Linked DNA regions of Homo sapiens. The protein of the gene in region 1 interacts with the protein of each later gene in a pairwise test. Each region holds a gene or a part of one and is shown in the gene's direction. Other genes may lie near its edges. The genes, in order: JRK, CCDC136, PDZD4, PRICKLE1 and TPM4.

What was found.
Region 2: the proteins of JRK (region 1) and CCDC136 interact in a two-hybrid assay, tested with the Homo sapiens proteins (one large-scale study listed by BioGRID).
Region 3: the proteins of JRK (region 1) and PDZD4 interact in a two-hybrid assay, tested with the Homo sapiens proteins (one large-scale study listed by BioGRID).
Region 4: the proteins of JRK (region 1) and PRICKLE1 interact in binary tests that used the Homo sapiens proteins (3 or more experiments, as listed by UniProt).
Region 5: the proteins of JRK (region 1) and TPM4 interact in binary tests that used the Homo sapiens proteins (3 or more experiments, as listed by UniProt).

The regions. Positions count from the first base shown.
Region 1 is NC_000008.11:142,658,939-142,665,060, reverse strand, and holds part of JRK (jerky protein homolog), read left to right. Parts: coding exon 1-709; 3' UTR 710-6,116; coding exon of another isoform or gene 6,117-6,122. UniProt on the Homo sapiens protein: May bind DNA.
Region 2 is NC_000007.14:128,797,583-128,803,704, forward strand, and holds part of CCDC136 (coiled-coil domain-containing protein 136), read left to right. Parts: intron 1-3,603; coding exon 3,604-3,927; intron 3,928-6,122. UniProt on the Homo sapiens protein: May play a role in acrosome formation in spermatogenesis and in fertilization.
Region 3 is NC_000023.11:153,819,494-153,825,615, reverse strand, and holds part of PDZD4 (PDZ domain-containing protein 4), read left to right. Parts: intron 1-6,122.
Region 4 is NC_000012.12:42,458,579-42,464,700, reverse strand, and holds part of PRICKLE1 (prickle-like protein 1), read left to right. Parts: coding exon 1-306; intron 307-4,035; coding exon 4,036-4,892; 3' UTR 4,893-6,122. UniProt on the Homo sapiens protein: Involved in the planar cell polarity pathway that controls convergent extension during gastrulation and neural tube closure.
Region 5 is NC_000019.10:16,085,644-16,091,765, forward strand, and holds part of TPM4 (tropomyosin alpha-4 chain), read left to right. Parts: intron 1-779; coding exon 780-897; intron 898-2,383; coding exon 2,384-2,454; intron 2,455-3,401; coding exon 3,402-3,477; intron 3,478-6,122. UniProt on the Homo sapiens protein: Binds to actin filaments in muscle and non-muscle cells. Plays a central role, in association with the troponin complex, in the calcium dependent regulation of vertebrate striated muscle contraction.

The DNA.
Region 1 (6,122 bases):
GGGCATTCGGAGAGATTTCATGAGGAACTTCATTAACCCTCCGGTCCCCCTGCAGGGCCCCCACGCCCGCTACAACATGAACGATGCCATATTCAGCGTGGCCTGTGCCTGGAACGCAGTCCCTAGCCACGTCTTCAGGCGGGCCTGGAGGAAGCTGTGGCCGTCGGTTGCGTTTGCCGAAGGCTCCTCCTCTGAGGAGGAGTTGGAGGCAGAGTGCTTCCCAGTGAAGCCCCACAACAAGTCCTTTGCACACATCCTGGAGCTTGTGAAGGAAGGCTCCTCCTGCCCGGGCCAGCTTCGCCAGCGCCAGGCCGCCAGCTGGGGGGTAGCGGGAAGGGAGGCAGAAGGGGGACGGCCCCCTGCTGCCACGTCGCCAGCAGAGGTTGTGTGGAGTTCAGAAAAGACTCCGAAAGCTGACCAGGACGGCAGAGGAGATCCTGGTGAGGGCGAGGAGGTGGCCTGGGAGCAGGCGGCCGTGGCCTTTGACGCAGTCCTGCGCTTTGCGGAGCGGCAGCCATGCTTCAGTGCGCAGGAAGTGGGGCAGCTGCGGGCGCTGCGTGCCGTGTTCCGGAGCCAGCAGCAGGTGAGGAGGCGGCGTGGTGCCCTCGGGGCTGTGGTCAAGGTTGAAGCCCTCCAGGAGGGCCCTGGTGGCTGTGGGGCCACAGCTCAGTCTCCCTTGCCCTGCTCATCCACAGCAGGTGACAACTGATGGCTTCTCTGCCCTGCCCTGGCCACTGGCCCTGTTTCTCCCCACACCCTGGAGTGGCATGGTCCTGTGCCCCGACCCCACCTGAGGCAGGAGGGCATGTGCAGACACTCAAGAGCCCTTCCAGGAGTGGGTCGCCCACGGGTGTGGCTCGGGTGCCCAGGACGGTCTGTGCCCGAGGTTCCTGTCAATACAGGTTTTATTTTATCACTTGCCGTGTCATCCGAAAGTGAGGAAATGTTTTGGAAGGGTCCACCCTAGCCTAGAACAAGCCAGAGCCGCACCCTGGCTGGAATGGGGGCCAGGCTGAGCCGATCTGGTCTCGTGTTCGCTGGCTGATCATTGCAGTATCAGAGGGTGGAGATGTCAGTCTGTCCACGTGGAGAGAAGTTGCCCTCCAGGCCGACAGGAGGCCATGCCCACCGCCCCTGGACAGGCTTCGTCTCAGAAGGCTCTATCTGCTGGGCTGGCGGCCATCCCCGTGTTGGGTGGACCCCGAGCACGGTTGCCTGAGGTCCGATGGCCCGAGAGCTGGGACTCAGTTCTTGGCCTGCTAGCGGCTGAACAGGCCGCACATCTCACTTCAGTTGTGGCCTCATTCAGCAGAATGACTCTGGAACCATCCTCTGTTACCCGCAGATCCTGTCCCATGGGCTCTGGCCCCAAGATGTTGGGGGGCCCCACGGAGAGTTGACTTGGTAGAGTTCCTTTCTGGGAAGAAAGTAGGAGTGGCTGACCAGGCCCTGCTCATCACCCGGATAGAGGACACGGACCCTGTGTGGTATTTTGGCATTTTGGCTCAGAGTCCAATGTACCATGTTGCCCAGAATTTCATACTTATGGCCTTTACATGAATACGTCTTGATCAGACATTCAGAGATTAGTCTTAGGTTTGCACGTAAGTCACTGAAAACAGTAAAACAGGCTGCTTAGATTTCTAGCAGTATGTGTGCTCTTATCCCCAGCTGTTAGCACGTTAGTAATACTTTTGGGGAGGAGTTGTCTGTCCTGGTCAGTTTTCACAGAGGCGGTTGTAAGAGGATGTGGTTATTTTCTCCATGTCTGTAGTTGCTTTGCGGCATCTCCATTTCACGGGCAACACTCACTGCCTGCAGCTGAGATTCCAGAACGCCCTGTGTCCACAGTGATTAGCCTCGTCTTTCAGCGAGCATAAAATAGGTGCATTGTCCTTTTCTTTTCTTGAGGCAGGGTCTCACTCTGTTGACCAGGCTGGAGTGAAGTGGTGTGATCCCAGCTCACTGCAGCCTCGACCTCCCTGGCTTGAGTGATCCTCCCGCCCCAGCCTCCTGAGTAGCTGGGACTAGAGGCACGCACCACCGCGCCTTTTTATTTTTTTTGTAGAGACAGGGTCTCACTGTGTTGCCCAGGCTGGTCTTGAACTCTTGGCCTCAAGCGATCCTCCTTCCTCATCCTTCTAAAGTGCTGGGATTACAGGTGTGAGCCACAGCACTCGGCCTAAATAGGTTTTTCTTGCTATGTTATTTTCAGTGCTTTGCCCTTGAATTCTTTTCCTCTCTTAAATTCATATCATTTGGCCGAGTCAGCACGTAGTTTGCATTCCAGCGTCTGCTGTTGATTCCACTGAAACCTCTGTTCTCATGAAGGAGAGGATTTGGCTCGCTGTGGTTTCTCGTACTTTCACATCTCTGTAGATACAGGGGCAAAAGTCATTGCTGACAGAGCCCTATCTATGTCCTGGAAGTGTGTGTTTCTTGCTTTGAATGCATGTGTGAAGATTATAAAAGCCAAATAGTTTTTAAAGATCTCGGTGCTGAACGACAGTCCCAGTTCCCATTTGTGTCCCATTGTCTTTGTGGTGTCACCCGCACTGTTTGCTTCATTGTCTGGGGAACTTCTGCACATCATGTACTTTGTGCCATTTCTGGGCTCACGTGTCACTCCTAATAGAGCCTCTTAACCAAGACTGCTGGATTGCAGCTGCTTGAGGCAACACAGGAGGTTAGAACATGTCCCGAGGGCTCTGAAACAGTAGGACATCCTGGGTGGGTGGAGCTGGGGAGGGCATGGGCAGGCCAGCTGGCCGAGCTCCTGGCTGGCTCTCCTGAGTCCTCTGGACATGGCTTGTCCCTGTCAGACTGTAGCTCTTCAGGACCTGAGCTCTTCCCGTTCTTGATCTGCTCTTGTGCTGACTGTGCTGGGCTGATGGGTAGGCGCTTGTCCCCAGTGAGTGGCTGTGTCCTCAGGGTGCCCCTCTTCCAGACCAACTGCAGCAAGGCCTGGAGCCTGACTCTAGGTGCAGCCCTTGTGGCTGGAATCCCTTGTGCCACCCAGGGGACTCGGGCCCTGCTCCTCCTGCAGCCCCTCCTCACCTGGGCTCGCTGCTGGAGTGAGGTTTTTAGGGAGCCCAGAGCGTACTCATCTCTGAGCTGCTGGGCCCAGCTGCCTGGTGCATACCTCTTGCCTCGGTCCTGTCCCCCAGAACGCTTTATGGAGACTGCCGTGTCCTCCGAGCACTTTGTTTTCACTTCCTGACCCGTCTCAGAAGCTCAAGTGGTTGAATGTTTTAGCCTCAGAATCTTTTTCCCCAAGCCCTCTCAGGTGGAGCCCCGCTGTACCAGACACCACAGCACAGCTCTGTGAGGCTGTGTCTCTTCACTCTGTTTCTGGGGCTGCTGAGGCCCCTGGGAAGCCCTGGAGCTTGCCAGAGCAGAGCGAGAAAGTCTCTGGTCCTGTTTAAATGCCTCCGCGTTTTATCTGTGAGCACCAGGCTGGAGCCACTCCCTGTCTTCTCACAGTGCCCCTGCAAGTTGCAGCCTCAGTTTTCCAGTGGCTCGTGGGGTAGCAGGTGCTGCGTCATATGGTTTGGGACCTCTGTGGCTGCTTCCAGCCTGCTAATAGAACCTCTTTCCACCACTGCCTTCATCTTTGGGGTGGCACCCCTGAGTGCTCAGGCCTGAGGGCGCTCCTGTGTCCTCACTCGGGACAGGCAGCCTCCACTCTGGGAGCTCCCATCCCTCGGGATGCCCAGGAGAGGCCATACTTTCAGGGTGGCATGGTGAATTCAGGGGTTAGGATGGGTAGGTGGTCTTTCAGCCCCTTCTACGTTGGGGTTGGTTTACAGAACACCTGTCCTGCCTGTGCCAGCCTGGCCTTCTGCGAGCACCCCAGGCACGCTGTCCTGGAAGTTGTCTGTCTCCTGCATAGGAGGGTCTAGAGCAGACCTTGCCCTGGGCCTGTCTGTGCGTGACTTCCATATGCTTCATTCGTGCTCAGCCATGGCTGAGCATGCGATGGAGAGCACCTGGACTGCCCCTGACGTCGCAGGCCACTGTTCTTATCCAGTGGGCCAAGTGATTGATTGCTAGTGGTGGAGTTGATTGGAAGAAAGGAAGTCGCAGCCCCTGCCCACGGCTTCCCCAGCTCGCTGGGGTTGGAGGACTGTCATCAGTTGTCCCCAGTTAAAGTCCATTTGGAGGAGGTTCAGGGTCCCAGTGGCTGGATGTGCTTGTGGAGGGACACGGTTTGAGGCAGGGGTTTGCAGAAGGTGTAGACTGCATCCATTCTTGGGAGGCTGTGGCACAGGGCAGCGACAACTTGGGACAAATCAAGACCCGTCCACACTGCACCTCAGGGACCTCACCTCACGCCCCACATAAATGTGCTTATTGGGGATCCGGGTGTGGTGGCTTCTGCCTGAAATCCCAGTACTCTGGAAGGCCACGGCAGGAGGATCACTTTAGTTCAGGAGTTTGAAACCAGCCTGGGCAACATAGGGAGACCCCATCTCTACAGAAAGTAAAAGAAAATGAGCCAGGTGTGGTGGCATGTGCCTGTAACCCCAGCTACTCAGGAGGCCGAGGCGGGAGGATCCCCAAGCCCAGGAGTTTGAGGCTGCAGTGAGTTATGGCCTCTGCACTCCAGCCTGGGTGACAGAGTGAGAGACCTAATCTCTAAAAACAAAAAATAACAAAATGTGCTTTGGGGTCAGGTGTGGAGATCAGGGTCGGGGAGGTCATGAGGTAGGTAGGGGTCAGGATGTGGACAGTCATGGGCTGGTGGGTGTGGCAGCCGTGAGGGGTGGGTGGTGGCCTGGGAGGCAGGGCCTGGGCAGGGCTTCTGCACTTCTGCTGCTTACCCAGCCCCCTCTGGGTTCGAGGACTCTCCTTGACAAGGGCTGAGCTCTCGGGCACTGCGTTGGACTCAGCTGCCTACTGGGAGGCTGGGGAGAATGGACCTGTGAGACCTTGTTTGTCCTCTTCCCTGCCCAGCTCTTGTAGACCCCAGGCCTGGCTGTCCGCAGGGCCAGGAGCTGCAGCCATGGCAGCCACCAGCCTCCCACATGAGCCCCAGCTCCCAGCCCCACACGCCCACTCCTTTGCCCATGTGGTGTCAGCTCTGGCCTCTGCTTCTACACATGGACCCTCAGACCTTGCACATCTGTTGTTTCCCTTGCAGGGCAGTGATGATGACATGAAATGAGGTGGGGTCACTCCTGTTTAGGGATGAGACTGGGGCCCAGGGAGGGGCAGGTGTGAAGTTGCTGAGGGCAGAGGGAGACCCAGGGCTACCTGCTCCTAATGACCAGCCTCACGTTCTCCACTGCTCACTCCCTGCTGTTCACCAGCTGCATGACCTTGAGCAGTGCACTCAACTGTAAACAGAGGTGAAAACACTCCTTTACCAACTGTTTTAGGGGCCACTCTTGTTTGAGGCCTTGAACCTCCTTTCAGTTCCGTGGTGGTCCTGAGCCTCTGAATCTGGGTATGGCCCCTGCTGGGTCCTGGTCTCTTAGGCAGCACGATGGCCTCCCTGCTCAAGGCCCTGCACCCAGGGGCAGATTGTGGGAGGCCCACTGGCCATGGCTGGGCCCTATCGCAGAGAGCCTGTCAGCACGGCCATTTCCACACCCAGGCTGGCTGGGAAGCAAGCTACGAGGTGCTCAAAGGCCCTCTATGTCTGCAGGTAGCCCCGTCCCACACAGGCGAGGATCGTTGGGCCTCCTTAGTAGCCAAAGGAACTGAGGTCCAGAGCAGGGAATGTGTTGCCCAGTGTCAGCATGGTCTGCTCTGGGGTCAGGCGTCTTGCCCTGGTCCTAAGCCACCCCAAGCCAAGGCATGTCCCTGGGCCCATTTCCTCTCTCGAGGTCTTGGGTTCCCTATTTCTGATGTGTGTGAAAGGAAGGCCTGTCCTCTGGGGTGACCATGAGGCTCAGTGGGAGGAGCTGCCAGGCTTGAGCTGGGACTTGGCACCTGGCCAGCCTTTTTTCTATTTCATTGTACCTTGATGGGCTGTCAGTTCTGAAGAGAAAAAATACACTAGGAATCCATTCTTCCTCCACCATTCTCCCTGGCAGAGGGAAGTGACTACACCCCTATGGTGTGGACATACTGACGCTCCTCCATGAAGCAGCAAAGTTCTGTTGTTTCAGGAGACT
Region 2 (6,122 bases), on another chromosome or scaffold:
TGGTCTTGGATTTGGCAAGAGAGAGGACCCTGAGACATCTCAGTGCATGGAGGCACCGATTGGATTGGGTTTGGAGAGGAAATGGGAGATGAAGGTGAGTACCGATAACTCCAGTAGTCATTTTGAAGAGAAGCAGAGAAGTAAGGGAAATAGGGTCAAAAGATTATTTCTTTTCTTTTTTCAAAGGTAGGAAATGCTAGATCATGTATAATGAAAGAAAAGATCCAGTACAAAAAAAGGCCTTTGCCTGGAGAAGGAACGTTCCTCCATTCAAACGGGCGAAAAGTCAGAATTGAAGCAGAGATGCAGGCAGGAACTACCTGGGAAAATAGGGTTCTATTTTTTTTTTTTTTGAGACGGAGTCTCGCTGTGTCGCCCAGGCTGGAGTGCAGTGGCGTGATCTCGGCTCACTGCAAGCTCCGCCTCCCGGGTTCACGCCATTCTCCTGCCTCAGCCTCCCGAGTAGCTGAGACTACAGGCGCCCGCCACCACACCCGGCTAATTTTTTGTATTTTTAGTAGAGGCGGGGTTTCACTGTGTTAGCCAGGATGGTCTCGATCTCCTGACCTCATGATCCGCCCGCCTCTGCCTCCCAAAGTGCTGGGATTAAAGGCGTGAGCCACCGCGCCCGGCCGAAAATAGGGTTCCAGAGCGATTCTCTCCTCAGTAGAGTTTTTTGTTTGTTTTGAGACGAAGTCTTGCTCTGTCACCCAGGCTGGAGTGCAGTGGCGAGATCTTGGCCCACTGCAACCTCCTCCTCCTGGGTTGAAGCAATTCTTCTGCCTCAGCTTCGCGAGTAGCTGGGACTACAAATGCCAGCCACCACACCCGGCTAATTTTTGTATATTTAGTAGAGATGGGGTTTCGCCATTTTGGCCAGGCTGGTCTCCAACCCCTGATCTCAAGTGATCCACCAGCCTCAGCCTCCCAAAGTGCTGGGATTAAAGGTGTGAGCCACCGTGTTTGGCCGACAATACCATTTTTTTAGGGCCAGAAGCACCTAAGAGAGAGTTGAACCCTAACATCAAAAGCATATTAGGGAGGTGGAGGTTGGTCTGTTTCTCCAGAACACCCACCCCAGACTCTAGGGCCTTTGTCCTAATGGCCAGCTTCCTCTTGTGTCTCCCTAGCTAGACAGACCTCACTGTGCTGCTCAGTAGTGGGGGTAGAGCGGACTTTTCTTCCAATAGGAAGTCAGAGAATCTAACAGGAGATTCTTGGCCTTGGCACGCAGTTAAGGATCAGTTAATAGTTGTTGAATAGATCAAGGAGACGTAACAGCTAGGATCATTCTAGAACTGGAAAGATTGGCAAAAGACATGCCCATAGTTCCACATGTGAGCTCAGGGGAGCAGGGTAGATCTTCCCCTGAGATGCCCTCACCACTCAGCATCTATCTATGAAGCGTGTCCAAATTTGTCTTCTTTGAAAGTCTAGATTCTATTCTAATTTTTAAAAAATATCCAAACAGGGCCAGGTGTGGTGGCTCATGCCTGTAATCCCAGCACTTTGGGAAGCCAAGATGGATCGCCTGAGCCCAGGAGTTTGAGACCAGCCTGGGCAACAGAAAGAGACCCCCATCTCTACATTAAAAAAAAAAAAAAAAAAAAAAAAAGCAGGGCATGGTAGCCCATGCCTGTAGTCTCAGATATTAGGGATGCTGAGGAGGGAGGATTGCTTGAGCCCAGGAAGTCAAGGCTGCAGTGAGCCATGATCATGCCACTCCACTCCAGCCTGGGCAACAGAACAAGACTGTCTCAAAAACAGAAAGGAAAACCCCCCAAACCCCAAATGTTTAGTTCTGTACACATAAGAGATACTTAGCAAAAGTTTGTTGAATAGATGAACTGCTGCCTTACTTATGCATGAATACATCAAATATCTATTGAGCTTCGTTTTCAGGCACAATACTAGATCCTGGAGCTGTAATGGTGAGCAAACCAGATATGCTCTCTGCCTCGATAAAGCTTATAACCAAGTGAAGGGGAGACTTAAGTACACACACACATATAGCAAAGTACAAGGTTTTATGAGACCATTTAATAGAGGACTTCTCTTATTTTTTTTTGAGGAAGTGGAGGTACAGGCTAGAAAAGTTGACATCTGAGTGGTGAGTAGAATGAGCAGAAGTTGGGGGAAGGGGATGGGAGAATGTGCCTTGCAAAGGATTTATGGGAAAATCCTGACCCTCCCAACCCAATCCTCATTAATTCTCTAATCCTGGCCCTCAAATCCTAAATTCACTGTTGGTGTCAGTGCCTTTTACTCTCTCCACTTTTTCGTTCTGATCCCAGATGGGTACATGTGTCTAGAAACTCTGAGATGCTCCATAGATACAGAGAACTCTTAACTCATTATTTTGTAAATTAAAAAATAGAAAATATAGGCTTGTTCTGAAAATCCAAACAGCACAGATAGATATGATATGTAAAGTAAAAACCTTACCACATGTTATCCCATACCTCAGAAACAACTACTCATTATGGTTTGGGCATAGATCTTTCCAGGCCTTTTTCTATATGTTTGTCCATTTGTGTGTTATATACTATACATAAAATATTTTTTGCAAAAATTAGATCATAGCATATATTTTACAGCTCTTTTTCTTCAGTTAATATGGAAACTTCTTTGTTTTCACCATAGATCTGATACTTTCTTTTAAATGGCTGCATGATATTCTATTTAACTATCATCAGTTTATTTATTTATTATTGTTATTATTTTTCGAGACCGAGTCTCACTCTGTTGCCCAGGCTGGAGTGCAGTGGTGCGATCTTGGCTCACAGCAACCTCTGCCTCCCGGGCTCAAATGATTCTCCTGTCTCAGCCTCCCAAGTAGCTGGGATTACAGGGGCGTGCCACCACACCTGGCTTTCTTTTTTTTTTTTTTTTAGCGAAGACTGGGTTTCACCATGTTGGCCAGGCTGGTCTTGAACTCCTGACCTCAAGTGATCCACCTGCCTTGGCCTCCCAAAGTGCTGGGATTATAGGCGTGAGCCACTGCTCCCAGCCTATCATCAATTTAAACAATCCCTTATCGACTGACACTTAGATTATTATCCCGTGTTTGGTTATTATGCAGTGAACTTATATTTGAATTTGAGTTGTGAACTCTAAATGCACATTGTTTTAGGTCCAGTACTTACCACAGGTAGGTCATGGGAACTCTGAGGCTCTGTAATTTCTGAGCTCTCAGGATGAATAGGTGAAAATAGTCTGTATACATTTTTTGAGTCAGGGGATTTTTAGAAAGATTCAGGGCATCAAGAAAATACTATAAATGAAGTTAGGTCTTTAACTGTCAGGTGATTCCTTAGAAGCATGAAATACTTTTTGTTTACAGTAGACTAAGTGATTGTTTTGGTGCCAGGCCTCAAAATCTACTTTTCTATTGGACCTTACTACATAGAGTCACTCTCTTTTCCCTTCTTAGGTACTCCTTTTATTCCGTCCGGCATGATGCTACACTTCTCTGATGGGGTAGAGACAAGGTTTTCAGGACTTTGCAGACAAGAAATAAGTCTCCCTTTAATTTTGTGCCTCTAGAACATGGTAGGTTAGTTCACCTGCCCTCTTGATCATCTCAACCTTTGGACTTTGCAGGTGAGCTGCGTTCTCTACGGGAGGAGATTTCCCTGTTAGAGCATGAGAAAGAAAGCGAACTTAAGGAAATAGAACAGGAATTGCATTTGGCCCAGGCTGAGATCCAGAGTCTGCGGCAAGCAGCAGAGGATTCCGCAACTGAACATGAGAGTGACATAGCATCCCTGCAGGAGGATCTCTGCCGGATGCAGAATGAACTTGAAGACATGGAACGCATTCGGGGAGATTATGAGATGGAGATCGCCTCCCTCCGTGCAGAAATGGAAATGAAGAGCTCTGAACCATCCGGTAGTTTAGGTCTCTCAGATTACTCTGGGTTACAAGGTATGAGAGCCATCAAGTGGGTCAGTAAAGTCAAGCAGAGGAAAGGAGATAATATATAGGAAAATGGTAGAAGGTGGTGTTAGATCATGAATTGGGAATCTCTAGAAAAAACCTCCAGGTTGAATTCAAGACTGTAGGGGTCCAGGCGTGATGGCTCATGCCTGTAATCCCAGAACTTTGGGAGGCCAAGATGGGAGGATCACTCGAGCCCAGGCATTCATGAGCAGCCTGGGCAATGAAGTGAGACCCTATCTCTTTCTAAAAGAAAAATTTAAATAAAAATTTTAAAAAGACAGTAAAGGGGAAAAACCTACCCAGATGTTACATAACCAGTCCATGGTGGTGTAAGAAATAGCACCATGGAGAGGTACCCTGGGAATTCTTCAGAGAGTCATTGGGTCTTTGTTGATTTGACTATGGGAAAACCCTTCCTGGGAAAATTTCCAGCTCTAGGATGGGCAAAGAGGGACCTGTCACCTTGGGAAACTCTTCCTGCTGCCCTGGCATCATGGTGCTTTGCCTGGAATGCTTTATAGGGGGCCTCTGGCCCTGCTTCCAGGTGCAGGGATGCTAATTCTTAGGTTCCATTAGCTCTCCTCAAAATAGAAGCTTTGGGGGGCAACAAATCGGAACAAAAGACAGCTAGAGAAGAAAAGTTATTCTGAGTGATACATGAGGTACCCAAAAGCCTAGAGCCCTGCTTTCAGACAGTGAGTCTCCCAGCTAGTTGCTAGGATTCATGACATCAGAGAGTTTGCCTTTATTCTGAGGCTAGATTTATAATCTGAGTATAATGGAGGTCCTATATTTGGCCAGGTCAAGCAGAGGCAATCAACAAGGAATCAAAGAACTGCAAGTTTTTCCAGCTGTATCAAGCCTCTCAGAAGAGCCTTTAGATTAAATGGTGCTGGGAGAAGAAGGTTGGCACAGTGGGAAGGCTTGGGCTGGAGTCAAACAGACCTGAGTTCAGTATCTCAGCTCCACTAATTAGCAGGATGAACGTAGGAGGTCTGGTTATGGTCTTTCTCTGAGCCTGTTTCTATATCCAGGATATGAAATCAAAATTGGTTAATAAAACCTTATAGCTAGATGGGATCCTGAAACAGGAAAAGGACCTTAGGGAAAATGTAGAGAAATCCAAGTAAACTATGGAGTTTAGTTAATAGTAATGTATCAATATTTGATTCCTTAGTCATGACAGGTATATCATGGTAATGTAAGATGTTGACAATTAGGGAAATTGGGTGAGAACCCTCCCAGGAAACTCCGTACTACCTTTGCAACTTTTTTGTAAATCTAAAACTATTCTAAAATTCAAAGTTTATTTAAAGAAGAAAAAAACCTTACAGAGCTATTTTGGGAATTAAATGAAATGTGAAGCATGTTGAAATCACTTGCACACTTACCAAATCTGAGGCTGAAACTATCAAGTCTAATGCTTAGCGCATGGTTAGTTTTCATTAAAGATTAGTTTCCTTCCTCCCTTATATGGTAATCTGCAGTATTCTAAGGAATTCTGATTAGAATTAAGAGGAAACATTAGAAGTTACTTTTAGGGTGTTGAATCTTCCAGCAGGTAAGATAGGTCTTGTGTTCTAATTAGAGCAAGTTAGTGTTCTTTAAATATCAGTAGAATTAATGTTCTAAGAGACATAATTCTTTTTCAATTTTTTGCTAGTGGACACAGAGTCTTGCTCTGTTACCCAGGCTGGTCTCGAACTCCTGGGCTCTAATGATCCTTCTACCTTGGCCTTCCAAAATGTTGGGATCACAGGTGTAAACCACTGCACCCGGCCAACATAATTCTTAGTCATGAAGCAACAAAACAGATACAGGTGTTTGTATCATCACAGCCTTAAAAGTGGGCATGGTGACTCATGCCTGTACTCCCACCACTTTGGGAGGCCGAGGCAGGTGGATCACTTGAGCCCAGGAATTTGAAACCAGCCTGGGCAATGTGGCGGAACCCCATCTTTACAAAAAAATTCAAAAATTAGCCAGGCTTGGTGGTGTGTGCCTGTAGTCACAGGTACTTGGGAGGCCGAGGTGGGAGGATCACCTGAGTCCAGGGAGGTCAAGGATGCAGTGAGCCATGACTGTGCCACTGCACTCTGGTCTGGATGGCAGAGTAAGACTATCTCAAAACAAAACAAAACCAAAAAGGAAAAAGTATAGGTATAGGTGACTGGTGCTTA
Region 3 (6,122 bases), on another chromosome or scaffold:
CATGTCGGAACCTCAGCCCCATTCCTATATTCCAATCATGTCCTCCTAGTTTGGAAAATCTGGGACCTCCCCTGAAAATGGAGGATTACTGCGTGTTGAGTTAGGAAAAGGAAGCAGGCTGGTTGCCCAGAATGGAAGGCAGGAAACAGCATGTCCCCAGCTCCGGAGCCTTTTCTGCAGCCCATGTCCCTCCACTGCCACCAGGCCCCCTTGTCATATATCTCATCGTGGTCCACACTCTGCTGAACTTGTCTTGGCCTTGGCACCCCCTCTCTGACACCATGATGTGCTTGCTAGCATCCGAGCACGCCGGAGATGGTCAGGGGATAAACCCCTGGTACTTAGGACTGGTCTCCCGCCCATCCTACTCAGGCTTTACAGGGGGAGTGGGTCAGGACCGCCTGTCATCTCCCCTCTGTCCACATCGAGGGAGGCCAAAGGACAGCTGGCCAGCCCTTCTGGTGATCTCCCAGGCATTCTTGCCTAAAGCACCTGCATGTGAGCCCCCATGGTGCTGGCAGCCATCCTGGGTGCGTGGCATTCAGCAGGGAGACACTGCAGACAGGGCCTTGCCCCTCCCCCAGACTCCCCTTTTGTTGTTGTTGTTGTTGTTGTTTGAGACAGAGTTTCGCTCTTGTTGCCCAGGCTGGAGTGCAATGGTACGATCTGGGCTCACCAAAACCTCCGCCTCCAGGGTTCAAGCGATTCTCCTGCCTCAGCCTCCCGAGTAGCTGGGATTACAGGCATGCGCCACCATGCCTGGCTAATTTTGTATTTTTAGTAGAGATGGGGTTTCTCCATGTTGGTCAGGCTGGTCTTGAACTCCCGACCTCAGGTGATCCACCCACACCGGCCTCCCAAAGTGCTGGGATTACAGGAGTGAGCCACCACGCCTGGCCCCAGGCTCCCCTTTTTGTAAGGGGGAGACCATCGCCAACATGTAGGCAACTGCGGGGGAGAGAAAGTACTGCTTGAGTGCGGGAGCGTGGCTGGCAGCCAGTGTCCCCTCTTCAGCGACGTCTTCCTCCAAACTGCTCTCCCACCCACCAAGCCAGGTGGCTTCTCTGGCTCCCTCCTGCTTGCATGGGGGCTTCCTGTGAGCAGGGATTTGGGTCTGGCATGGGCACTCTGCCTCCCCGCCTCACCAGCACCAGATGCTGCCAGCACATCCACGCTGGCCTCCACCCTTCCAGGGGAAAGCTGGACTCTCAGTCAACTCAGTGGTTCTGCCGCAGAAGCTGACTGGGGAAGAAGCAGGCTCTGAGAAAGTCCTTGTGGAGTGGAAGAACAGAGGGCTGGACACTGAATTCTGACTGCCATCTTCTGGACCAGGTCATCCTGTTTTGTGTCATTGTCCCAAGATTGTAGAATGCCCTTTCCCCTCTCATCTCGGGGTTCCTGAGGACTGTCCAGTCTGCTGAAATGAAATTCGATAGTGCCAGAGAGCAGATTCGTGGTTGCAGGGATGGGCAGAGGGGCATGAGGACACTTTTGGGGAAGATAGAAATGGCCACTGTCCTGACGGTGGTGATGGTTCCCCAGGTTCATGTATGACATATGAACACCTGCCCTTTGCACACTGAAGATGTGCAGGTTACCACCCAGCAACAGACCTCACCAAAGCTTTAGAACAGGAACTCCATGGCCACATGCACGCATCCTGGGGAGAAAGGTGTCCTTTCCTTCCTTCTACTTCAGGGGCCCTGCCAGAGAAGGCAGTGCAGTGTGGAGATAGGAATGGAGGCAGCCACCAACTGACAGCTGTGTGGCCAGGGGCAAGTCGCTGCATGGCCCACTGGCTCAGTGACTCAGTTTCCTCAACTGTGAAATGGCAGTGAAGAGTGCTTGCGTCCGAGGGCCATTGTGACAAGGAAAACAGATGGTGTGTCCCCCGGGATCTCACTGGGTGGAGGAGGGAGTTGCTGCCCTCGGGCCATTCAGTTGGTCATTAAGAAGTGGAAATTGGCTGGGTGCGGTGGCTCACGCCTGTAATCCCAGCACTTTGGGAGGCCGAGGCGGGTGGATCATGAGGTCAGGAGTTCGAGACCAGCCTGGCCAGCATGGTGAAACCCCATCTATACTAAAAATACAAAAAATTGACCAGGCGTGGTGGCTCACGCCTGTAATCCCAGCACTTTGGGAGGCTGAGGTGGGCGGATCACCTCAGGTCAGGAGTTCGAGACCAGCCTGACCAACATAGAGAAACCCCATCTCTACTAAAAATACAAAATTAGCCGGGCATGGTGACACATGCCTGTAATCCCAGGTACGCGGGAGGCTGAGGCAGGAGAATTGCTTGAACCCGGGAGGTGGAGGTTGTGGTGAGCTGAGATCACGCCATTGCACTCCAGCTTGGGCTCGAAACTCCATCTCAAAAAAAAATATATATATATATATTAGCTGGGCATCATGCACCTGTAGTCCCAGCTACTCGGGAGGCTGAGGCAGGAGAACTGCTTGAACTCAGCAGGTGGAGGTTGCATGAGCCAAGATCAAGCCACTGCACTCCAGCCTAGGTGACAGAACGAGACCCTGTCTCAAATAAATAAATTAATTAAATAAAAAATAATGAAAAAGGAAATTATATGGAGAAGGCCTTACATCTGGGTATGTCACAGTTAATGCCCAGTGACAGAAGAATGTCCAATATTATTCTGAGAATTTCTCTCAGGAAAGGGACCTCCAAGTTTTGAAGAAGTGTGATGTAGTACAATATTAGTTAGGACAGCCTGGGCAACATATTGAGACCTTGTCTCTACAAAAATAAAAAATTGCTCAGGCGTAGTGGCATGCGCCTCTAGTCCCAGCTTCTGGGGAGGCTGAGTGGGAGGATTGCTTGAACCCAGGAGTTGGAGGCTTCTGTGAGCCGTGATTGTACCACTGCACTCTAGCCTGGGCAATGGAGCCAGACTGTGTCTGGAAAAAAAAGAAAGAAAGACAGAGAGAAAGAGAGAGAGAGAGAGGGAGGGAGGGAGAGAGAGAGAGAGAGAGAAAGAAAAAACAGATGGACAGGGAACAAAGCGGAGGCATATGTGGTCATTTTGCACAGGAGTTGGGCCGGAGGAGGCGAGGCTGAGCAGCCTGGGGCTGGACAAGATGTCCTCCCTTTCAGTGCATTCTGCCTGTCCTCATGGCTGCTTGGAGCATTGAGAATGAAAAACGCTGCAGAGGGAATATTGCTTTGATTGTAAAACGCTGCAGAGGGAATATTGCTTTGATTGTTGCTAGATGTGAACTGTGCCCTTAGCCAGTCAGGTTAGCCTGAGGTGGGTGGGAGGATGGGTTTAGTTGCTGGGCCACGTGCCTGGAAAGCTGTGAATATGTACCCGAAGGTTGATCTTGAGAATGGCTTCAGGAAGTGGTTGGCTTTTCCTGTGCAAGGTGTGGGACACCCCTCTTTTCCTGTGTGTTTTTTTTTTTTTTTTTTTTGAGACAGAGTCTTGCTCTGTCACCCAGGCTAGAGTGCAGTGTTGTGATCTCGGCTCATTGCAGCCTCCGCCTCCTGGGTTCAAGCAATTCTGCCTCAGCCTCCCGAGTAGCTGGGATTACAGGCACCTGCCACCACGCCTGGCTAATTTTTGTATTTTTAGTAAAGACAGGGTTTCATCATGTTGGCCAGTCTGGTCTCAAACTCCTGACCTCTAGTGATCCGCCTGCCTCGGCCTCCCAAAATGCTGGGATTACAGGCGTGAGCCACCGCGCCCGGCCTCCTTTCTGCTTCTGAGCCAGGACTATGGAGGTGTCTGAGAGGCCGCCGCTCTCCCGGAAAGGTGGGGGCCAGGTGGATTGATGAGACTTCAGCAGACCCTGGGCTTCGGGGAGGGAAGGAGAAGTGAGGGGAAAGAAAGATGCCCTCATGCAGAAGGCCTTCGTTGAGGTCTGCCCTGGTTCCTCCAGGGCGCGCTCTGAGTCAGTACAGCGCCACCCTCCACCCGAAGTCCTTGTTAAGGTGCACTTTCTGACTGAGCCACTAGCATGGGGCCTGGGATTCTGCACTTCTCACAAGCTCCCAGGTGATGTGGATCCCACTGGCTGTGAGTAGCCAGGGCCTTGGGTAGGGACCGGGAGTAGATCTATGGTAGCCCCAAACCACATTAACATGGGTGGTGAAGTGAGGTGTTGTTTTTTTTGTTTGTTTGTTTTGTTTTTTTTTTTTACAAATAGAGGGTAAAAATTGTTTACAAATAGAGGGTAAAAAAACACACATAGAGGGTAAATCAGAACATCCAGGAGTCGTTGCCTACGTGAGGGCTTTACAGGACATAACTTGTTCTTCCCTGCCATGTGCAGCTAACTGACCCCCTTCCCTGTCACCGGCACCCCTACCGGTATACATGTCTCTCATGGACGCCCAGACACCCCTCCCCCGACTAACTGCTCAAAGGCCTTTGAGATGAAGCCCTCCCATGTTTCTGTCTCTCCTGCCCCCAGGCAGAAAGGGTGGGCACAGAGTTATGGAAGCGGGTGGTGTGGCTTGCCCAGGAGGCCACAGTTGGGGGCGTGGGCAGCCATGCTACTTGCCGGGCCTGTCACCTCTTTGTCCCTGCTAGAATTCTAACATGTTGGTGGAGACATTTTGCAGCCACCAATGCAGTAATTAATTCAGGCAAAAATCATCACTGGATGCCAAAACCATTAGATGTAAGGTCGTTGGGGACAGAATATTCACAAAGTCTCCAAATATTACCCCAAATTACCTGTGAATCAGGAAGGGAAACTGCGTCTTTACAGAGGAGAGATCTGGCAGCTGCCACCTGGACCATGTGATCAAACAGCCTCCCCAACAGTGGGGCAGCCTGACCCTGCCAGCCGCCAGATGCAGGGCTGGGGAGGAGACATACAGCATCTCCTGCAAGGTGCTCTTGTCAAAACGCTCAGCCTGAATCTCACCGCGGGAATGAATCAGGCAAATTCAGACTCTGGCGCATTCTATAAGGACTGGTCTCTTCCAAGAAGTCATTCCCATTAAAGTAAAAAATATATATATTTTTTTCTAGATTAGAGAGGAGACATAATAACTAGAGACCTAACAACCGAATGTAATATGTGTGCTTCTTGATTGAATCCTAGATTTTTTGTTTGTTTGTTTTGTTTTTGAGATGGAGTCTCTCTGTGTCACCCAGGCTGGAGTGTGATGGTGTGATCTCAGCTCACTTCAACCTCTGCTTCCTGGGTTCAATCAATTCTCCTGCCTCAGCCTCCCAAGTAGCTGGGACCATAGGCTGCACCACCACGCCTCGCTTTTTTTTTTTTTTTTTTTTTTTTTGAGATGGAGTCTTGCTCTGTCGCCCAGGCTGGAGTGCAGTGGCACGATCTCGGCTCACTGCAACCTCCTCCGCCACCCGGGTTCAAGTGATTCTCCTGCCTCAGCCTCCCTAGTAGCTGGAACTACAGGTGCAAGCCACCACGCCCGGCTAATTTTTGTATTTTTAGTAGAGACGGGGTTTCACCATATTGGCCATGCTGGTCTCGAACTCCTGACCTTGTGATCTGCCCGCCTCAGCCTCCCAAAGTGCTGGGATTACAGGCATGAGCCATTGTGCCCAGCCTCAAATCCTAGATTTTTAAAAAAAGCTATAAGGGTGTTAGCGGGACAGCTGGGGAGATGTGAGGCTGGCCCATTGTATGAGTGCGGAATTCCGTGCTAAGGGTGTTGTGGTTCCACGGAGAATGGGACTGATGGCATCTTGCTTTCAAATGCTTCTGCACATGTGTGTGTAGAAACCCCGAGAGCAGGTGTGGGGAATCTGCAGATGTTCCCACATGCTTGTGGGCGGACAATTTTCAAAATCCCGAGCTGGGGAAACATGAATGGGGACTTTGCTGGGTCACTGAGTGGGTGAATGTAGTGAGCCTGCGGCTTCTCCTTTCTCCTCTGATGCTCTACTCGTTGGGAGATCCCCCGATGCCTGACTTGGCCTGGAAGCTACAGTCACAACTGCTTCCAAGGTGTCCTGGATACTCCAGACGGCAGAGCTGAGAGCCAGCAGGCAGGTCAGAGCTCGGCCCCGGGCAGAGGATAACTTCCTGTCTCTGTCCTTCCCCAGCTTGTTTCCTACTCTACAGCAGTGGGGTAAGGGGAGTCCGAAGGTGGCAGCCCCCCCACCTCCGTGGCAGCCACG
Region 4 (6,122 bases), on another chromosome or scaffold:
CTGATAACATGGTTAAAAGTAAGACCGAGTTAAAGCAAAATAACCAGAGCCTTGCAAGTAAAAAATACCAGTCTGATATGTACTGGGCACAGTCACAAGATGGACTGGGCGATTCTGCTTATGGCAGCCACCCAGGCCCTGCAAGCAGTAGAAGGCTTCAGGAATTGGAACTGGACCATGGGGCTTCAGGGTATAATCATGATGAAACACAGTGGTATGAAGATTCCCTGGAGTGTCTGTCAGACCTGAAACCAGAGCAAAGTGTTCGGGATTCGATGGATTCTTTGGCATTGTCCAATATCACAGGTACGTAATCTAGGGATTATGGGGTATTTGAAAAAAGGAGCTACTAAAAAGTGTATTCAAAAAATTGCAATTCAAGCCAGGCGCAGTGGCTCATGCCTATAATTCCAGCACTATGGGAGGCTGAGGTGGGCAGATCATTTGAGGTCAGGAGTTCGAGACCAGCCCAGGCAACATGGCGAAACCGCGGCTCTACTAAAAATACAAAAATTAGCTGGGCATGGGCCTGTGATCCCAGCTACTCGGGAGGCTGAGGCAAGAGAATTGCTTGAACCCAGGAGGCAGAGGTTGTAGTGAGCCAAGATTGCGCCACTGCACTCCAGCCTGGGCAACAGAGCAAGACTCCATCTCAAAAAAAAAAAAAATTGCAATTCAGCATGAGTAGGAGTTGTGTGTTATTCAAAACCATGGATCAAGGGAAGGAAGGAACCTCACTTAAATACCAAACACTAGCAAAACAAACACATGTGTGAGGTGAGTGCATGTGCATAAAATATATTTACAGTGCAGTCTTTAGGGATAGGTTTTATTACCCTGTTTTGAAGAGAAGGAAATTGATTGGAGGAAGGAGTGTACAACTGGATTGTGTCTGAAAGATATTGTACGCTTGAATTATTCTGTATGTATTCTAAGATACCAAAATTGGCCCACACACTTTACAAGCTCTTTTTTTTTTTGAGGTGGAGTTTCGCCCTTGTCGCCCAGGATGGAGTGCAATGGCGCAGTCTCACCTCACTGCAACCTCCATCTCCCGGGTTCAAGTGATTCTTCTGCCTCTGCCTCCCCAGTAGCTGGGATTACAGGTGCATACCACCATACCTGGCTAATTTTTGTATTTTTAGTAGAGATGGGGTTTCGCCATATTGGCCAGGCTGGTCTCGAACTCCTGACCTCAGGTGATCCACCCGCCTCAGCCTCCCAAAGTGCTGGGATTATAGGCATGAGCCACCACGCCTGGCCACAAGCTCATTTTTTTTTTTAAACATCTTCCTGAATTTCCCTGTGACAGTAGCTCAAAAACAGCTGAATACTTTTTATTTAGATTCTAAAATATTACTGTAATGTTTTCTTTTTTTTCCTAGTTTTTTGTTTTGTTTTGAGATGGAGTTTCACTCTTGTCACCCAGGTTGGGGTGCAATGACGCGATATCAGCTCACTATAACCTCTGCCTCTCAGGTTCCTGAGTTTAAGCGATTCTCCTGCCTCAGCCTCATGAGTAGCTGGGATTATAGGCGCCTGCCACCACGCCCAGCTAATTTTTGTGAGACAGGCTGGTCTCAAACTCCTGACCTCAGGTGATCCACCTGCCTTGGCCTCCCAAAGTGCTGGGATTACAGGTGTGAGCCACTGCCCCTGGCCTACTTTAATGTTTTCAAAGCACAGTCATACCAGTTATCCACATTTTATCTTTAAAATGACCCTGAGCTATATAGAGTGGATGATATGATTGCATTTCACAAATGAGGAAACTTGAATTACCAAAAGGCTAAATGCCAAACATTACATAGGTTCTAAAGGCAAGATTAGGCCTAGAACCTAGGACATTATGCAAATTATTTGCAACAAGTCTTTGGATTATAGAAATGTTGCTGTTGCATGGCTAGTTTTATAGTCAAACTACTGACATCCAGCCCTTTGATGAAGGTAATGCTTCTGTAATGTAGACAGGAAAGGCTTAGTAGCTGCTTCCTGCCAGGAATAACTTGTGCCAGACACTGCAGTGACAAGGAAGGGTACGGCAAAGCTACCCCCCCGGCTTCTGTGGACTTGTCAAAGATAAGGCCGGCAATAAAGGGGAGTTGAGGAAGAATGGTGGGTGAGACTGAGTAAGCACCTTTTGTCTGCCAGGCCCAGTGCTAGGAGTTTTAAATTTAATATCAGAAATAGACATAATTTGGCCAGGTGTGGTAGCTCACACCTGCAGTCCCAGCACTTTGGGAGGCCCAAAGCAGGTGGATCACCTGAAGTCAGGAGTTCGAGACCAGCCTGGCCAACATAGCAAAACCCTGTCTCTACTAAAAATACGAAAATTAGCCAGGCATGGTGGCATGTGCCTGTAATTTCAGCTACTCGGGAGGCTGAGGCAGGAGAATCACTTGAACCTGGGAGGCGGAGGTTGCAGTGAGCCGAGATCATACCACTGCACTCCAGCCTGAGTGACAGAGCAAGACTCTGTCTCAAAAAAAATAAATAAAAGAATTAAACATAACTTGGTACACATTTAAGTGTTAGGGGCTGACATTCCTTGACAATAATAAGCTGAAAAATAGGCCCCCTTTAAAAAGTATGAAGTTATATAGGGCCGGGCGCGGTGGCTCACACCTGTAATCCCAGCACTTTGGGAGACCGAGGCGGGCAGATCACGAGGTCAGGAGATCAAGACCATCCTGGCTAACACAGTGAAACCCCGTCTCTACTAAAAATACAACAAATTAGCCAGGCGTGGTGGCGCATGCCTGTAATCCCAGCTACTCGGGAGGCTGAGGTGAGAGAATGGCATGAACCCAGGAGGCGGAGCTTGCAGTGAGCTGAGATGGTGCCACTGCACTCCAGCCTGGGCGACAGAGCGAGACTCCATCTCAAAAAAAAATAAGTACGAAGTTATGTAGTCTCCAGTTGACAACAGTATCACTTTGTCTATAGGGCTATATGTATTTATCTTAACATGCCTGGGTCCTATTATATCAAAAGAGATCAATATCTGTTTTGTTAAATGTTTCAATAGAAGATTAATCTGGAAGTGGCATATTTTACACGTTGAAGGCAGAAAAGACTGGATGAAGATCTAGGTCAGGGGTTGAGCAAACCTTTTCTATAATGGGCTCGATAGCCCTTTTTAGGCCTACGGTCTCTGGTGTGACTACTTAGCTCTGCCACTGTAGAAAGCAGCTATAAACAATATGTAAACAAATAGGTGTGGCTGTTCCAATAAAACTTGATACACAAACAAGCTGTTGAGCTGTAGTTTGCTGACCACTAGCCTCAGTATAAGATGAGGAAGACTAGCTCATGATGGAGACCAAGGAGGGACTGATGTGAAAGATCTCCAAATGAAGCAGTGTGGCTTTAATGAATTGAGGAGCAGAAGCTTCTACATCTTATGTTAATGAATGAACAGGCTGCTGTGAAGAGCTCTTAAAGTTTTGCTGCTCATGCCATGTGCCGTAACTACTTAACTAATCTTTGACTCCAGGCTTATAAGAGAACCTGTGCCCCAGGCCAGGTGCAGTGGCTCATACCTGTAAACCCAGCACTGTGGGAGGCCGAGGTGGGTGGATCACCTGAGGTCGGGAGTTCGAGACCAGCCTGACCAACATGGAGAAACCCCGTCTTTACTAAAAATACAAAAGTAGCCAGGTGTGGTGGCACATGCCTGTAATCCCAGCTACTCAGGAGGTTGAGGCAGGAAAACTGCTTGAACCTGGGAGGTGGAGATTGTGGTGTGCCGAGATAGCGCCATTGCACTCCAGCCCGGGCAACTAGAGCAAAACTCTGTCTCAAAACAAAACAAAAAAACAAAACAAAAAAGGCTGTGCCCACCCCTTATAACAATAACTGCATTTATACCACTTCTCAATTGGCATAGATACATGTTGGCTTTCCCTATGGGTTTTAATCAAATATTGAGATTGGAAATTTTCTTTGAAATATTTCCTTTCAGTAGCTTACTTTTAAGTACTGTCGAATATTAGGATGATTGAGAAGCACATCTTGTTTTGGCCTCTCTTCTAGGGGCTTCGGTGGATGGAGAAAACAAGCCAAGGCCATCATTGTATTCTCTGCAAAATTTTGAGGAGATGGAAACAGAAGATTGTGAGAAGATGAGCAATATGGGAACTTTGAACTCTTCCATGCTGCACAGGAGTGCAGAGTCCTTAAAGAGTCTAAGTTCAGAGTTGTGTCCAGAGAAAATCCTGCCTGAAGAGAAGCCAGTACATCTGCCAGTGCTCAGAAGGTCCAAGTCTCAATCCAGACCCCAGCAGGTCAAGTTTTCTGATGATGTCATTGACAATGGGAACTATGACATTGAAATCCGGCAGCCTCCGATGAGTGAAAGGACTCGGAGACGCGTCTACAATTTTGAAGAGAGGGGATCCAGGTCTCATCACCACCGCCGCCGGAGAAGTAGAAAGTCCCGCTCCGACAATGCCCTGAATCTTGTTACAGAAAGAAAATACTCTCCCAAGGACAGACTGCGGCTGTACACCCCCGATAACTATGAGAAATTTATACAGAATAAAAGTGCCCGGGAGATCCAAGCATACATCCAGAATGCTGATCTCTACGGACAGTACGCCCATGCCACTTCCGATTATGGCCTGCAGAACCCAGGAATGAATCGGTTTCTGGGACTCTACGGCGAGGATGATGATTCCTGGTGTTCTTCCTCCTCCTCCTCTTCCGACTCGGAAGAAGAAGGATATTTTCTTGGACAACCAATCCCTCAACCCCGGCCACAGAGATTTGCCTACTATACAGATGACCTTTCTAGTCCACCATCTGCACTTCCCACCCCTCAGTTTGGTCAGAGGACAACAAAATCCAAGAAGAAAAAGGGACACAAGGGCAAAAATTGTATTATTTCTTAACCAAGTAGTGATGCAGAGCATTTGTTTAAAACTTAGCCATTAACCGTCTGAATCGTTTCCTTTTCTTCCGTAGGAAAGTTGTGAAAATAGTTTAAAGTGCTTTCTTTGCCCATGTAAATGAGAACTCAACTGCTGTTTACAGTGTCAGATTAACATTTGAAAGGTGTGATTTCTCCAATTTACCCTCTTTGGATGGTGCCAGGTGGACGTGACATCTCGTGCCTGTCCGGTGCGGGTGCGTTACAGATGGACGTAGCTGCTTTGGTTTTCCAGTCCTCAAGGGAATACTGAAGATGCTGACTGAAGGGGATTGGATGTTGATTTTAGAAGATGGAGAACTCCAGCCACCTTTGTAAAGCACTAGTGTTTGTCATTTATGTAAGTCAGGTCGGCTCAGGTCTTGATAGTCCGTCTTGGTGTGAGGCATGCCTGTCACGATGACCTAGCTAACACTGTGCATCTTATTGTGAGGCCAGCTTGTCCCCTCGAACCCTCTTTGGCCAGGTAAACATTGTATTGTATCAGCGCCAGCTACAGATTGAAAAAAAAAAACAAAAAACATTGCTATTTATAACTTAGTATTTCATAGACTTAAGTGTATTCCTAATTTAACGGTGCAAATATTAATGTATATACTGTACAGTTCAGATTTTAAAGCTGATATTTTTATATCCCTGAATTGTAAGCCGTTTGTTACGCTGCAGTGCTAGATTTGCCAGGGAACCAGAATTTATGGATGAACTGATTGCTTATATTTTAGTCAGGGTTTATAAATGTAGATGGTCAAATTTACATTGCCTAGTGATGGAAAATTCAACTTTTTTTGATTTTTTTTTCCAATATTAAAAAAGGCTCTGTATGCATGGTGGGGCTATGTAAGTACTCTTTAAAACTATGGCCCTATTAATCTTACAAGTGTTACTTATGGGTCAAGCAATGTAAACTGTATAAATGTAAAAACAACCCCTCCACACACATAACCCCTGGAATATATGGTAAAAACAAGTAGAAGCTGTTTCAGCGAGTGGGTTTTTTCCCCCTGCCTGCGGGGGGTGCCTTTCTCATTTTCAGCAAGGTGATGATTATCTCATGGGAAATGACAAAGATCTGCTTTTGTGGCAGAGGACTTTGTAGATTTGTTATTTTAAGAGAGGTTATTCCTTTTTATTCCTTCCCTCCCACTAATTTGTTGGCCTTTAACAGCAATTTTGAAAACTGGGTCTTCTGGTT
Region 5 (6,122 bases), on another chromosome or scaffold:
CCAGCTCTGTAACCTTAAGTTACTTACCCTCTCTCTATGCCTTAGTTTCTTCATTTGTAAAATGTGGATAATTTACCTGCTCCATAGGGCAGTTGTGAAAGTGAAGGCACTTAGAAAAGTGCCTGGTAGTAAAGATGAAGGGAGGCTGGGCGCGGTGGCTCACACCTGTAATCCCAGCACTCTGGGAGGTCAAGGCGGGCAGATCACTTGAGGTCAGGAGTTCCAGACCAGCCTGGCCAACATGGCGAAACCCCCTCTCTACTAAAAATATAAAAGTTAGCCGGTCACGGTGGTGCATGCCTATAGTCCCGGCTATGCTGGAGGCTGAGACAGGAGAATTGCTTGAACCCAGGAGATGGAGGCTGCAGTGAGCTGAGATCACACTACTGCACTCCAGCCTGGGTGACAGAGCGAGACTCCATCTCAAAAAAAAAAAAAAAAACCAAGATGAAGGAAATGTGTGCACAGAGTTCCATCTTTGCAGTGTGTTACAGTGCTCAGTAGATTCAGAGACTCATTTAGATGAGAGATGGGACTAGGGGTGGTGTCTCACGCAATTAGCCAGACATGGTGACGGGTGCCTGTAATTCCAGCTACTCAGGAGGCTGAGGCAGGAGAATCGCTTGAACCCGGGAGGTGGAGGTTGCAGTGAGCTGAGATCGTGCCACTGCACTCCAGCCTGGATGACAGAGCGAGACTCCATCTGAAAGAAAAGATAGATGAGAGGTGGGTGGAGGGGTGTGAGTGAACGGCCGTCCTGATGAGATTGCTCCTTGCAGAGGAATGAAGGTGATAGAAAACCGGGCCATGAAGGATGAGGAGAAGATGGAGATTCAGGAGATGCAGCTCAAAGAGGCCAAGCACATTGCGGAAGAGGCTGACCGCAAATACGAGGAGGTGAGTGGGGCTGGCAGATGGCGCAGCAGCAGGAAGTGGGAGGAAATGCATCTGCTGAGATAGGGAGGACACCGGGGCCAACGAAAGGAAGCTCTCGGTTAGGTCAGCTGTCCTCCTGCGTGAACATATGTTTGTCCAGAGACAACCACTTGGCTAGGAAACTATCTCCCACGATGCCAGAAAGTGCTGCGGACGCTTGTCTAACGTAATGGGAAAACCGAATGATCAGCTCACTTGTGTCGTTAGCTGGGAGTTTTGGCACAGTTGGGCAAAAATGGAGGATTGTGGTCCCAAGCCATGGAGTTTCAGACCATGCAAGCTCAGGCCCTCCTTTGCCTCCCTCGATGGCTCGGCTCTTCCCTCCCGCCTCTTGTCTGCCTCGCTCCTCAGGCTTGAGGAAGAGAATCAGGATTTCCTCCAGGCCCCAGGATGGCTCTTTCAGTTGAAGCGCCAGCAAAAGGCCAGGCGCGGTGGCTCGTACCTGTAACCCCAGCACTTCGACCGAGGCGGGAGGATCACCTGAGGCCAGGAGTTTGAGACCAGCCTGGGCAACATAGTGAGACCCCATTTCTAAAAATAATAATAATAATAATTAGCTGGGTGTGGTGGCATGCACCTGTAGTCCCAGCTACTTGGGAGGCTGAGGCAGGAGGATCGCTTGAACCTGGGAAGTCAAGGCTGCAGTGAGCTCTGACCACGCCACTGCACTCCAGCCTTGGAGACAGAGCAAGACCCTCTGTCAAAAACATAAAAGGGCTGGGCATGGTGGCTCACGCCGGTAATCCCAGCACTTTGGGAGGCCAAGGCAGGCAGATCACCTGAGGTCAGGAGTTCATGACCAGCCTGGCCAACGTGGTGAAACCCTGTCTCTACAAAAAATACAAAAATTAGCCGGGCATGGTCGTGCATGCCTGTAAGCCCAGCTATTTGGAAGGCTGAGACAGGAGATTCACTTGAACCCAGGAGGCAGAGGTTGCAGTGAGTCAAGGTTGAGCCACTGCATTTCAGCCTGGGTGATGGAGCGAGACTCTGTCTCAAAAGAATAAAAAAATAAAAAAGAGGCCAGGTGTGGTGGCTCATGCCTATAATCCCAGCACTCTGGGAGGCCGAGGTAGGTGGATCAGGAGGTCAGGAATTCGAGACCAGCCTGGCCACTACGGTGAAACCCCATCTCGACTGAAAATACAAAAATTAGCTGGGCGTGGTGGCACGCGCCTGTAGTCCCAGCTACTTGGAAGGCTGAGGCAGGAGAATCGCTTGAACCCAGGAGGTGGAGGTTGCAGTGAGCCGAGACTGTGCCACTGCACTCCAGCCTGGGCAACAGAGGGAGACTCCGTCCCCCTGCAAAAAAAAGAAACACCAGAAAAACCCATGTTGCAGCTGGTCTAGGGGTCTGGGTGGGGCATCATTGGGGGCTGTCTGCAGTGGATGGGAGAGGACACGGCTGGTGGGGATCGGGCTCAGCTGGGCCTTTCTGTCTCTGCAGGTAGCTCGTAAGCTGGTCATCCTGGAGGGTGAGCTGGAGAGGGCAGAGGAGCGTGCGGAGGTGTCTGAACTGTGAGTGGCAGAACAGGACTGAGCGAGGCTGGCTCGATTCCTGGGGCGGAGTGGGAAGGAGCTGGCTGTGTTGGGAATTGGCTCTGACCGGGGTCTCTGCTCAAGTGGACGGGCGTCAGGGGCTCATGGCTCATCTTTTCTCTTGGCTTCTGTGACAAAGAGGTGGTGACTTGTTCTTACTGCCATGGGAAGCACTGCCCACGTGTTGACCCTTTCTGCAAAGATATGAGGAAATAGGAGTGAGACAGGAGGCAGCAGGGAAGCCCAGAAGTCCCATTTTCCCAGAGAGGATATCTCAGGGGGCTGTGCCATCTTAACAGAACACTGACCTGCTCCAGAAGGCAGGCTCCCCCGGTCAGTATGTAAATGCTTTTGCTCCTGTCAGTGTTTGGCCGTGACACATTCCTGGCGGGAAGGTGAGAAGCTTAACCAGAATCCCACAAGCAAGCACCGAAAAACAAAACACCTGTCCTCTTGGCCCCGGGTGAGGAATTCAGCCCCACAGAGCATCCGGGAGTGCTGAGAGAGATCTGGTTTCACAAATCCACTCCGGGCTTCCTTCCCGGAGTGTCCCCTGCAAACTCCCATTGCTCTCTGCCCGCCTTCTGCCCTCAGTCCCATTCTTACACCTTCCGGAGTCGGCCTCATCAATCATAGATTTCACAAGTCCTTGCAGCCTTACCCTTGGCAAAAGACCAGGAGTGTTTTCCAAGCCCTCCAAATACTCTTCGGGCGCACCTCGCCTCTGCCTGGTATGATAAGCCTTTGATAAGCCCATAGTATCACACTGCAGAAAAATCCATTAACATTTTCTCCCCACATTCCTTCTGCCCCCCACCGGGGGAGCTGTGTAGGTTTCTCCTTTGGAAAATTTATTGTTGGGGCGATTGCTATTATTGCCGGCTGTAAGGGAAGATAAGACACAAAAATCCTTTGTCTTTGTGCAGAAAATGTGGTGACCTGGAAGAAGAACTCAAGAATGTTACTAACAATCTGAAATCTCTGGAGGCTGCATCTGAAAAGGTAGGTGGTTGGCTTGAGCTGGAGGGTGGCTTGCTGGACTTTGTTCTTTTCTTCTCCCGAGGGATGCAGGAGCCTGTCAGGTTATGGGGAATCTGCCCTTTATTTAACAGTAGCGTTGGTGCCTGGCAGCCAGGGTTTTTCCCCTACAGAAAGAGCTGGATTTCTCCTGCACACTCTTGAGTCCTCTTCCATGGGGTCTGAGCACCATCTTTGATCTCCATCTCAGGAGGATAGAGATAGAACATGAGGCTCTTCTTAGCGAGATCTGAGCATAGTTGTATAAATAAATACAGAGCCTGCCTCTCACCTGATTCCCCTGGTTCCTCCAGAAATACCATCTCAAAGGTATAGCAATGATCAGAGGTGGAATTGGGCTTTTTAGTTTGAAACAGCACCCAAAGCAGTTGCTACGTGGCAGCTACGTCGGGAACAAAGGACACACTTCCACGGCCGAACCCCACTGAATTTCCCAGCCTCTTCCTCATTCTTGCTCCTGCTTTTGCAGTTTCACAGACATTCTTTGTTCTCCCATCACCTCCACCCCCCACTTTTTTTTTTTTTTTTTTGAGACAGAGCTTCGCTCTGTTGCCCAGGCTGGAATTCAGTGGCATGATCATAGTTCATTGCAGCCTTGAACTCCCAGGCTCAAGCGATCCTCCCACCTCAGCCACCACCTGCTATTCACTCAACTGGGTGTGGCTTTCCTTTTGCTTGATAAACCCCTATTCAGCCTTTTTTTTTCTTTTCTTTTTTTTTGAGACAGGGTCTCACTCTGTCACCCAGGCTGGAGTGAAGTGGCGTGATCTCAGCTTACTGCAGCCTTCGACTCCCAAGTTCAAGCAATTCTCCCACCTCAGCCTCCCGATTACACGCTAATTTTTATAATTTTTGGTAGAGATGAGGTTTCACCACATTGGCCAGGCTGGTCTCGAACTCCTGATCTCAAGTGATCTGCCCGCCTCGCCCTCCCAAAGTGCTGGGATTACAGGCATGACCCACTGCACCTGGCCTAGAGATGAGATCTTGCTCTGTTGCTTAGGCTGGAAGTGTAGTGGCGTGATCATAGCTCACTGCAGGCCCCAAACTCCTGGGCTTAAATAATCCTATCACCTCAGCTTCCTGAGTAGCTAGGACTTGCAGGCATGTGCCACTACTCCAAAACTGTATTTTTTTTTTTTTTTTTATAGAGCACAGTCTATGTTGCCTAGGCTGGTCTTAAACTCCTGGCCTCAAGTGATCCTCCCACCTTAGCCTCCCAAAGTGCTGGGATTACAGGCGTGGGCCACCGTGCCTGGCTAATTTTTCTAGTTTTTGGTAGAGACAAGGTTTCATCATGTTGGCCAGGCTGGTCTTGAACTCCTGGCCTCAAGTGATCCTCCCACCTTGGCCTCCCAAAGTGCTGGGATTACTTTGGGAGGCCGCCGAGCCTGGCCTCCTGTTCATCCTTTGAGCTTCTGCTTAAACATCACTTCTGAGAGTCCTTCTCTGATTTCTCATCTAGGTTAGGTATTTCTCTGCTGTGTAGCCCTGTCTATACTTTTGCTGGCATTATGATTTCTTACATTTATTATAGTTACTCCATTAATTGCATGCCTTCCTTGCTAGATTGTAAGTTGTAAGGACAGGAACCATGTCATCTTGTTCAGAGTTGTGTCCCTAGTACTAGCATTGTGCCTGGCATATATCTGTAGTGTGTGTGTGTAATTTTTTTTTTTTTTTTTTTTTTAGTAGAGATGGTGTTTCACCATGTTGCCCAGGCTGATCTCAAACTCCTGGCCTCGAGTGATCCACCTGCCTCTGTCTCCCATATGTGCCAGCCCTGGCATATATCTGATACTAGGATGTGTAAGGAATGAATCCAGTTGGTGTGTGTATGCCAGACACTGCCCCGGGCCAGGGGGATAGATGTAACACCACTAATACCTCAGCTGCTTTGTTTTGTTTTGTTTTGAGATGGAGCCTTGCTCTGTCGCCCAGGCTGGAGTGCAGAGGCACGATCTCAGCTCACTGCAACCTCCACCTCCTAGGCTCAAGCAATTCTCCTGCCTCAGCCTCCTGAGTAACTGGGAATACAGGCGCACACACCACGCCCAGCTAATTTTTGTATTTTTAGTAGAGACGGAGTTTCACCATGTTGGCCAGGCTCGTCTCAAACTCCTGACCTCAAGTGATCCACCCACCTCGGCCTCCCAAAGGGCTGGGATTACAGGTGTGAGCCACTGTGCCCAGCCTGGCATCTGCTCTTGAAGAGCTCAGAGTCGAGTCTAGTGGAAGGGATTGACAAAGTCACAGAGTGCTTTGGGAATACAATAGAGGGACCTTGGTAGGTTGTGAACGGTGTCACCAAGGAGGCGACATTTAAAACAGCTGTAGGTCCAGCACGGTGGCTCATGCCTGTAATTCCAGCACTTTAGGAAGCCGAGGCGGGAGGATCGCTTGAGCTCAGAAGTTCGAGACCAGCCTGGGCAACATGGAGAGATCCCGTCTCTACCAAAAATACAAAAACTAGCTGGGCATGGTGGTGCATGCTTGTGATCCTAGCTACTTGGGAGGCTGAGGTGAGAGGATCACTTGAGCCTGGAGGGCGGAGGTTGCATTGAGCCAAGATTGCCCCACTGCACTCCAGAGTCAGGCTTCAGTCATGA